Linked DNA regions of Homo sapiens: region 1 is linked to region 2. The links come from fine-mapping of genetic effects on gene expression. A gene starts in region 2. The other region holds a variant in brackets. All regions are shown on one strand. Distances are between the middles of the regions.

The links. PIP is the estimated chance that this variant, and not a neighbour inherited with it, causes the effect.
Region 1: its variant is fine-mapped to the expression of HOXA4 in whole blood (INTERVAL, PIP above 0.99).

What each region holds. Positions count from the first base shown.
Region 1 is chr7:27,160,513-27,165,880 of GRCh38, forward strand. HOXA10-HOXA9 (HOXA10-HOXA9 readthrough) reads right to left here. Exons shown (of 3, transcript NM_001433944.1): 2 at 4,366-4,455; 3 at 1,926-3,329. The coding sequence ends at 3,091. HOXA9 (homeobox A9) reads right to left here and starts at 5,025. Exons shown (of 2, transcript NM_152739.4): 1 at 4,366-5,025; 2 at 1,926-3,329. The coding sequence starts at 4,945. The coding sequence ends at 3,091. RefSeq lists enhancers at 1-675, 1,550-2,049, 3,561-4,438, 4,439-5,315. The variant A/G (reference allele first, on the strand shown) is at 2,158.
Region 2 is chr7:27,128,427-27,133,794 of GRCh38, forward strand. HOXA4 (homeobox A4) reads right to left here and starts at 2,331. Exons shown (of 2, transcript NM_002141.5): 1 at 1,692-2,331; 2 at 99-1,145. The coding sequence starts at 2,307. The coding sequence ends at 799. All of the region lies in intron 2 of HOXA3 (homeobox A3), which reads right to left. It overlaps HOXA-AS2 (HOXA cluster antisense RNA 2), which reads left to right. Exons shown (of 4, transcript NR_122069.1): 4 at 1-334. RefSeq lists a silencer at 2,489-2,558.

The sequences.
Region 1 (5,368 bases), 32 kb after region 2:
ACCGAGATTGCCTTTACGCCCAATTTTCACCGCCTAATTTTATTGTCTCGATTCAAGCCAGCCGAGTCCCGGGGTCCTGGCTCTGTCTTGGGTTCTGGCTCGCCGGGCCCTGACCCAGGTCGCAGGTTTCGGGGGCCTCCTGGGCGGCCGCGGACCCCGCGGTCACGGTGTGAGCCCTCGGCACGCACCGTGCACACCCTCTGGGCGGTCATCAAGTTCTGGGGCTGCAGGCGTTCCTCCTGTGTCCGCCAGTCAGCCGGGGCTCTCTGGCGCCTGGCTGTGTCAGGCCTGTCCCAGCTGAGGACGGTGACCCTGGAGCCGCGCCCGCGCCTGGAGCTGCAGCCCCGCGGCCGCCCGGACAGCTGCAGCCCGGCAGCACTGGGCCCCCGGGATGGGGTCAGGGAGGCGCGAGCGGTGAGGGTCGGGCAAGCCCCCGCCGATTCCTTGTTTCCCAGCGAGGCTTCTAGCCAGGCTTGAGCAGCCCAGAAAATATAGGGCGGCTGTTCACTAAAATCTGGGGCTCCCATTCCAGAAAGGCTCGTGTCAAGTCGACATCTTAGGAACTTCACAAGGGTCGCGGAGGCGGGAGATGGCGGCGCGGAAGCCTCTTGCATGGAGCCACACTGCCATCTGCTGGCCGCCGTTTGGTACTGCAGCCTCAGCTACCTCCGCCGGCCTGAGCTTTGGGAGCCGCCGGCTAGCCCACCGCACCCCACTCCCAAACGAGGGGCGTGGGCCTAGGTCCCGGGGAGTCTGCGTGGAGCCCGGAATCTACTGCAGAGGAGGCAATGCCAATAAAAGAGGTGTTTCCGCAGCCGCTTTATCGGCGGCAGACAGAACAAATGAACAAATGAAAGGGCTTTGGTGGAATATCCTAATTGGGGCTGGACAGTTGTAAACTCATTAAGGGACGAATTCCAGACAGTTCGCAGACCCGGCCTTTATGGCACACTCTTACTGCCTATTCTTTGAAGTTCCTTCTGTCTGCAACAACAGAGGGCGTCCCAACCTGGCGGCGGGGTGGGGGTGGGGGTTAGGGGACGCCTCATCCACCCGCGCCCTGGTTCCCCTTTTAAGCTTAGAACACATCCAACTTTGCAGAAGTCGTGGAGTGGGGGAAGGGGGTCGGGCGAGGGAAGCAAGGGGGTGGAAGCGAGGCCGAACCCTCCGGCCACATCTGGAAAGCGCTCAGGCCTCCGAAGTTGTGGCCGTTCCCCCCCCCCCGCCCCTCGTAGCCCTTTACACCCCATAAACGGTAACAGCCCTCATTTTCTTTTATGGCGCTTAGGGGCTCGTCAATTGCCTCAGCCCTGCCTCTGTTAGGCCTTGTGCTCGAGAGGTGCTTGCAGTGCAGGACCCAGATTCTCTTGGGCCAGGCTGGCAGGACTCCGCGGGGGTGGCGGGCGGTGCGAGGATGCAGGGCTTTGTTCCTTTGCAAGCCCCCAAAATGTTTGCCTGCATGGCCACGTTGGGCCGGTGGGGCTCCTATTTCCCTCTTCAGAGCCTGCTTAGAAGGCGGCTCCCAGCTCTCTATCCTGTCACCCTCTCCCCCTTTTCCTCACCAAGCTAACGAAGGCCCAGGTTTGGGAATTTTCTCGGGGGCACCAAGGTGAGAGTGGTCTTTCCACTGCTACTGGCCAGACCAGACCAGCTCCTCAGGGGCTTCTCCGCCGTCCCGCACATAGACACAAGGCCGGGAGCCTGGCTCCTCCGCCGGGTTTCCCAGCTTTTTCTCGCCGCCAGGCAGCTGGCCTGTTTGGGAGAGCTTAGCTCGGCGGACTGGTTGTGGCAGGTCCCGCTCCTGAAAGCCAGCCAGAGGCAAAATTGGGGCTCTTTCTCACCACCCCAACCCGCCCCTACCCAGAGACTCTACATAGGCTCCCCTGACCCAGAGAAGAAGGTGCAAAGAGCAGACCCGCAAAAAATAGAAAAGAATCAATATATTTTATTTGGCAAAAAGTTAAATATCATCTCAACACAACAATTTGGTCAGTAGGCCTTGAGGTAACTATTGCAAAATATACAGTGTAAGTTCAGTCTGATGGAAACCCCAGATTCATCAAGGATACAAATCTACAGTAGCCCAATGGCGGTTTCATAGTGTATAATTTATTATCAATAAAATTAACTCCGTTACAATCAGCATTCATTTCCTCC[A/G]ATTAAAATTAAGCATAAACCCTAGGTAGTAACCTTCTGCACATATGTATAGCTCCGAATTTCCTCACTGTTCGTCTGGTGCAAAAACAATATTCAAGCTTGTCTGATTATGCATATTTTCTTTAATCATATAGATTATATATACAATAGACAAGACAGGACTATATAGATAATGGACAGACTTAAATGCCCGCATTTTTAAGGTGGAGAAAATGATGAATCTATGCATCCCCGAGAACACTTAAAATTTTTTTTTATTTCACTGGGAAATTCTTACAGCTACTTTACAATCATAGGTTAACAGCCTAGTTATACAGAAGACATATTCCACTACAGAGCTATACTCTATGCAACTGTTTTTTTCCCCTCATAAACAACCTGAGTTCAAATTGAATTCTATCTTCCACAATCACAATGGGTGCATCACCCAGTACACAGAAGTTTGAATCACAAAACATAATTACCACAATAAAACACAGTGTTCAAGTATCTTGGCAGAGCAATCTGCCGCACAAACTGCAAATTAAATTAACTACACAGACTAAAAACTATACAGCCTACCATCAACAGTTGTGCATTATAAAAAGGTAGTTTCTTTCCTTTTGTTTTAAGTCAGGAACAGGTAGATTTTTAAAAATATATATACAAGCTAACACACACAGCTATCAGCACTAATGCCCCCCCCTCAACTTTTCCTTTTTCTTATAGAAAATGGAAAGCTTACAATACCTCCTCCATCAAAGCGGCAGGCCTACGAGCCAGCCTGAACAGGGTTTGCCTTGGAAAAGATGTGGCCTGAGGTTTAGAGCCGCTTTGTGCGGGGATGGTGGAGGCTAGGGTGGGGGTGAGAGAAGGGAGAAGGCGGAAGGGGGACGGACAGTTCTTTCTTTTTCTCTCTAGCTTACCCTTTTTTCTAAATAAGCCCAAATGGCATCACTCGTCTTTTGCTCGGTCTTTGTTGATTTTCTTCATTTTCATCCTGCGGTTCTGGAACCAGATCTTGACCTGCCTCTCGGTGAGGTTGAGCAGTCGAGCCACCTCGTACCTGCGGTCCCTGGTGAGGTACATGTTGAACAGAAACTCTTTCTCCAGTTCCAGGGTCTGGTGTTTTGTATAGGGGCACCGCTTTTTCCGAGTGGAGCGCGCATGAAGCCAGTTGGCTGCTGGGTTATCTGCGGGGAAGAGAAACACTGGGTTTAGGAGCAGAAGACGCACATCCCGCTGGGGCAAATGAGCCTCCTGCATGGGGTCTCTGGCCGAAGTGCAGAACTCTGCTGAACTGGTTAGGAAAGGCAGTCAGGCCTCGGACACAATGGAACCCTGGCAGACAGACGCACAGACAGTCACTTAAAATTGCACGCAGTAAAACTTTGGCTCGCCCTCCCCTCCGAGACCTTCCTTTCTCCTACTCTGTCCTCTTGTCCCCCTTCTCCTTCCTCCCACTCTCAAAACGCTGTATAGAATGAAATTTGGAAACAGGTCTCCTTGCCACGCAGAGGGAAAGCATGCTGCCTTGTGTTCTGTAGCAAGATTAGGATTCCTCTGTCCCGTTCACTGACTTCGTCTTTCTTTCCCAACCTGTCCCTCTACGCCCCCCACTCCTTATTTAACCTTCCTGGAAGGCCTTCGGAGCTGGGCAAGCCGTCAGGGCGCCCTAAGGCCGCTGATCACGTCTGTGGCTTATTTGAATAATCTGTCATGGGGACCCTTGTGGCCCGGGTCGCCCGCAGCCTCATCTTGGCAGGATTTACGCCGCCACTGGCCGAAGGCAAGAAGTGGAAGGAATCGGCCGTCTCCCCCAGCGTCCCAGCTCCGGCTGCCCTGGCTGCCGCCGCTCACGGACAATCTAGTTGTACAAAAGGCTCTCTGGGCTGCACTGCTTTCGAAGAACGGCCCAAAGTATCTCGGTCCTGGGCCTGGGCAGCCAAGGAGAGGGGCGGCCAGTCTTGGCTCGTCCCGAAGTGCCCGCCCCGCCCCCTCTCGCTGCAGCAGCCGCCTCCTCTCCCGTAGCCCTGCGGGCCGCTCTTCACTGCTCTCCAGACTTGGGGCCCTATCTGAGGCGTCCCAAACACCAACTTCTGGCTCCTGGCCCCAACTCGAGAGGCTTCCAGCGAGGACGAAGGCAGGCTCGAGAGAAACCTGGCGGGCCAGCAGATCCGGGAGGCCGGCGTGGAGGCGGCGGCGGATTTGAAGGGAGGAGACACTTACTGGGATCGATGGGGGGCTTGTCTCCGCCGCTCTCATTCTCAGCATTGTTTTCAGAGAAGGCGCCTTCGCTGGGTTGTTTTTCTCTATCAACTGGAGGAGAACCACAAGCATAGTCAGTCAGGGACAAAGTGTGAGTGTCAAGCGTGGGACAGTCACCCCTTCTGGCCGACAGCGGTTCAGGTTTAATGCCATAAGGCCGGCTGGAGGGCAAGCCCGCGAAGGAGAGCGCACCGGGCGTGGGCTCCAGCCAGGAGCGCATGTACCTGCCGTCCGGCGCCGCCGCCGCCACGGGCGCCTGGGGGTGCACGTAGGGGTGGTGGTGATGGTGGTGGTACACCGCAGCGGGTACAGCGTTGGCGCCCGCCGCGTGCACTGGGTTCCACGAGGCGCCAAACACCGTCGCCTTGGACTGGAAGCTGCACGGGCTGAAGTCGGGGTGCTCGGCCAGCGTCGCCGCCTGCCGGGGAGGCTGGCCCAGGGTCCCCGGCGCATAGCGGCCAACGCTCAGCTCATCCGCGGCGTCGGCGCCCAGCAGGAACGAGTCCACGTAGTAGTTGCCCAGGGCCCCAGTGGTGGCCATCACCGTGCCCAGCGCCTGGCCCGCCCGGCCCGACCCACGGAAATTATGAAACTGCAGATTTCATGTAACAACTTGGTGGCACCGGGGGGGAAGTACAGTCACCTAATAAGTTGCCGGCGCCCGCGCCCCCATTGGCCGTGCGCGTCACGTGCCCGTCCAGCAGAACAATAACGCGTAAATCACTCCGCACGCTATTAATGGTCCGATGTTTTGCAGTCATAATTTTTATAGCAAAAGCCATATGTTTTTATGTAAAGGGATCGTGCCGCTCTACGATGGGGTTTGTTTTAATTGTGGCCAACGACGATTAAAAGATCAAATCTAGCCTTGTCTCTGTACTCTCCCGTCTCCCCCCCCATACACACACTTCTTAAGCGGACTATTTTATATCACAATTAATCACGCCATCAAGAAGGCGCGGGT
Region 2 (5,368 bases):
CTACAAGGTTTTTACATGCAAGGTCAAGTATCTCAATCCAGAGGACTTTTGTTTTCTTAATGAAAAGCTTAGAAAACACATGAATCTTAGATTTTTAATGTTTTTTAAATGGAGTTTATTCTTAGCACATGGCTTTCTATGTAGCCACATCACAATTTGTACAGTTCCACATAAGTCTAAATGCACTCCCCTCTCCCCAAAGACCGTGCCCCAGAAGGGGACAACAGTATCTCTGTAACAGTGTCTTAAATAAATGCAAGTAAGAAAAACTAACATGTCACACCTACCATCAAGGTCTACACATCTTAAGAATTAAATAATCTTGTGAGGTCCACAATGTCTACTCATTTATTCAGTTAAATACAAGCTTGGATGAGCTGCCTTAATGGGGGAAGAGGAGGTAAGGAAGGTGGGGAAAGGGTCTGTCTTCTTCTGCTTTCAACAAAGATGCAAGTGTATGTCCCCACTCAGCATGGGCTGTCCAGCTAGCTGACTGTAGCCATCTCAAAAGTATTTGATACCAAGTAGTCCTTCTCAGGTATCCACACCTGGCAGCCTTGTTTCGGGCCAGCAGGTTGTTCCACCAGCCAGCATCCTGGACAACTGTTCTCTCTTGGGTGGCAACCAGCACAGACTCTTAACCGGATAATGTCTTCTTTTTGATTATTCTTTTCACCAATTTGGGTTTGTTTTGGTGTCTATTATGGTCCAGATGGGGAGGGGTGGATGAGGAACGGAGCAGGAGAAGAGAAGAGAAAAGCAGGTAAGGGATAGAAACTGGTTAAGATCTCTAGAAGATTATATGGAGGAGGGAACGGGTGTGGAGGTGCTCGGGTGGGGGTGGGGATGGAGGTGTGGGCTCTGAGTTTGTGCTTTCCCTGGTGGGCCGGCAGAGGCCGAGGCCGAATTGGAGGATCGCATCTTGGTGTTGGGCAGTTTGTGGTCTTTCTTCCACTTCATCCTCCGGTTCTGAAACCAGATCTTGACCTGGCGCTCAGACAAACAGAGCGTGTGGGCGATCTCGATGCGGCGCCGCCGGGTCAGGTATCGATTGAAGTGGAACTCCTTCTCCAGCTCCAAGACCTGCTGCCGGGTGTAGGCGGTTCGAGAGCGCTTAGGCTCCCCTCCGTTATAACTGGGGTTAACTGAAAACCCAGAACCCCGAAATAGAAGGCCAAGGAGGAGGGAGCGGAAGAGAGGGAAAGGAGGAGGAGAGAGAAGGTGGGGTGGGGAAGAGCAATTGGACATCATCATTATATAATAACCTGACACCAAGTTCACGCAAGATACATAAAACGGCAAAGAAAATGTTTCACAGGCTATTGACAACGGGAAACACCCGAGAGCCATAAAGAATGGTGCTGGGCATTGGGGCTGAAGAAAAGCTTCAAAGACACATGGCCTGAAGCCTCTGCCAGGGCAATTAAATTTATGGGGGCTATAATTACTGCCCTAACAGTTTGGCGTCTCGTAAATCTCCTGATAAAGGGACCCTGGGTACAAAAGGGTTCTCATGTTGGGATCAGGCGGCTGGCTGGCGCGCACATACCCACATCTCACCGCAGCCCGGGTCAGATGGGGGCTCCCCTCCCGAGGCCCCCTTCCCCTGAGCCTCTCCCTCCTGACCCCGACCCTCGAACCCAGGCCCAGCCCCGGCCCACCTCCCGCGCCTCCCAAGCGGCGCCACGTACCGGCGCTGACATGGATCTTCTTCATCCAGGGGTACACCACGGGCTCCTTGCCCTTCAGGCCCAGCGGGCTCTTGTCGGCCAAGAGCAGCGGGCACGCGGGGGCGCTGCCCCCTGCCGGGACGCCTGGGGTGGCGGGGGCCGCCTCGCAGCGCCGCGGGGCCGCTGGGGGCACGGCGCGAGGCTGCAGGGGCGGCGGCAGCTGGGGCTGCAGGACGTGGCTCGCATGCAGGCCGTGCGCTGGGCCCTTGGCTTGCGCCGGGGGCTGCTCGGGCTGGGGCGGCCGCCCGGGGCTGGCGCCGCCGCGGTAGCCATAGGGGTAGGCGGTGTCCGCGGCCCCATGCGCGGGGTACAGCGCGGCAGCAGGGTAGGCGGGCTCGCGGGCGGTCCGCGGCGCGTAGTAGGAGGCAGTGGGCTCTCGGCCGCCGCCCGCGTGAGGGAGCTGGGGCTGCTGCAGCGGCAGGTGCTGGGTCGGGGGCGCTGGGGGCTGCTGGTAGCCGGGGCCCCCGCCCGGGCCGCCGTCTGCGCCGCCCGAGCCGCTGTGCTGCGCGTACTCCTCGAAGGGAGGGAACTTGGGCTCGATGTAGTTGGAGTTTATCAAAAACGAGCTCATGGTCATTAATTTGTGAAGTGCAAAAATACTAATTTTTCTCGCGTTGTCGTTTTTTCTGGGCTTGCCGAGGCCCCTCCCCCTCCTGCCTCGCTTCCCATCCCCCTTTCCTCTGCGCCCTTCCCCTCCCCCCGCTGTCAAGTGCCCACTCCTCCCCCTCCCGCAGACGCCGCCACCAAAGTTCGAGCCGCTCCTCCCCAGCCCAGCGCGCGCCCCGCCCCGTGCCCCACGTGCAGCGCCCCCACCAATGGGCGCACCGCGCGCGCGGACCCGGATCAGGAAACGCGCGGGTGCGTGATGGATGCTGCTGTCCGGCCCCTGGGCTGGGGGAGGGAGCAGGAGCTTTGGACCCCAGCCCCCCAGCTTTGGTTCCCGCTGGGAATTCAGGCCCTGTCAGGCTGTAGGTCCTCTCGGGAGCCCTCTGCCTGCCCTACTGCTGGCCTAGGCCTCGGGCTGTCTGGCGGCCGCGACTCAGCGCTGACCTCGGGCGCAACCCAGTCAGGCTTCGTGTCCTTCAGGGGTTCTAGGCTAACAGGCGAAAGGAAGGGCGTTGGGACCGAGGGGCATCCTGGTTTTTATGTACGCCACTGAGAGGCCACCAGACACATTTTCTCAACCGCAGATCCCCCTTCCCCACACCCTGCTCCTTGCGTGTCAGCCTGAGAGCCCTTGCTTTGAGAAGCTTGGCAGAAGCTGCAAAGGGTGGGCGGGCAGCTAAGAGAAATCGACCCAAGGATGTAAATCGAGGCCATTCCATTATAACTGGATGGACACTTTTCATTTTTTCCTTCTTTCAGAGACAATCTGTTTCGTGTTTTCCTAAGAAAAATTGGAACCTTCGTAATAGCATCTAATTTGACGGGGGTTGTCGATGTGAGAGCTAAATATGCCCGCATTTACTAGGTGCGATTGTGAGAGAGAAGGTGGCCCAAGGATGGGAATGGATAGAAGCAACACCTCCACAGAACCGAGCTTTGAAAACAATAACTTCCTATTTCAGAACTATCCCCAAACAAAAACAAGCTAAGGGTAGAATAAACACCTTGCCGGGTCTGATCGCTGATGGGTCTTTTCCAGCTAAGAATTTCATGTTTTCTCTTTTAGATCCTGCTTTCTCAGGCAGTATCTGAGGCTAGAGTTATATTTGCAGGACAGTCTATAATTTCTGAATTGCTGAAAATTAGCGTATTAACGATATCAGAAGCTCCGGAAAGGAGGGAGAGGAGACTGTTGCCTGCTATTTGGTAATTGAAATTTGATGGGTACACTAATTACGCCATTATTAACAAATAAATTACTTATTAATTCCACCTAATGTTGATCTTTGAAGTAAATACTGATGCCTTATTTGTGCTGTGTGCTTTCTCCCTTTCTTTTCTGAGTAGTAGACATATCTAGATCCTCTACTTTTCAGCCTAAATTAAAGCAGTGTAAACTAGCATAGTCACCATTCTAAAAATATTTTCATATTGGCATGCAAAAGCAAGGATTTTTCAGCTGGTGCACCTTAGTTGATTTTTCAAAGAGCAGTATAAACAGCCTTCTCACAACTGAGTCTGGAACGCAGACAAGGAAAATTATTTCCTAAGCCTGGAGACACTTGAAAAGGAATGTCAATTCTATCTTCATTCATACTGGTTACTCATATGAGTTACTAAATGCTGGAATATATCCATTTGATGGATAGTCACTTAATGCTTAGCCACATAAAGCCTATTATATGGGACTAATCTTTAAACTAATTTAGGAAAAGAGGTTAAAAAGGGGATCATATTAGCTTTCTAACTGGAATCACCCTGAAGAGGTACAAAGAGATTTTCCACGTTAGGTGTATATGAGTGTGAAGAGTGCTGTCCATTCACATGAGGCACCCTGAAAATTTGTTTTTAAAGAAATTTGAGCCACAGACAGAAATCAACACTGAGTGTAATCTTTAGCCATCCTCTCTAGACTGGAGGAAAAATTTAGAATGTGATACATCTACCTGAACCAATATCTCTCCCTAGCAAGAAAAAATAATATACACATAGGTTATATAAAATGTAATATAAATAATATATAGACATACGTATTACAAATCTGAACCCTATAAGTTTCAGGGGGACAAAAAGCATGACAAGGAAATCTTCCCTCCTTCTCATGTCATCAGCCTTGAGTACTAGGGTCTTAACCATATCTGTTTAATATTTACAGACACTAAAACACAAAATTCTGTTGTTTAGCCTCAGAACCTTGTACCAAGTTTCTATTTTTAAGTATTAACGAGACATAAACACTGTTTTGTATACGGTTAACCCAAACGAGTTAGCTGTGCCTGTGTTTTGTGTGATTCTATTACTTTAGGAAGATGGCCTTACACAGAATCCCCCAAGGCCTGTAACTTGTCTTTGTGGTTCGTATCATAAACACAAACGGAGCCAGGACCACCAAGTGTTATCTCAACACCGACATTTTGACATTTTACTGCAAGATTTATGGCTGTAATAAACAATCTCAGTACCTTTTCTGAACCTTCCTCAATCTCCCTTTGCAAACCATAGCATCATTCCATTGAATCAAATAATCTTTTGAAAAACATTTAAAAAAAATACCTCTTGCCTTTACACAATATCCAAGACACCAAAGTAAAGCCAGGAAGAAACTAACTCAATTAATAAACAAACTGAAGTTTACCAGCAGCATCTCGCCTGAGAAAAGATGGGATGCCCTGAAATGTAGCAGAGAGGGAGCATGCTAATCCTCACACACCAACTGGCTCCAGTCCCAAGCGGGGTGAAAGCGTTATCCTTTCCTTAGGAAACTGGTGAGCACGTTTGCTCATTTCCACGTGCAGGGATAACATATATTCCCAACAAAAGCTTTCTTAAAATCCCATTAGGTGAAATAACTTTTCATCATGTCCTCGAATCCCAGATGGAGAAGAGTGAAGGGAGTCGGAGGGAGAGGGAGGGTGCAAGGGAGGCAATGTTTTGCAGCTTGGTTTGAATCTGATTTGAATCATTTTGAATATATTTGTAACAGCATTCCCTCTTGAATGCAACCCTGTCCCAAGTTTCAAAGTGACCGAACA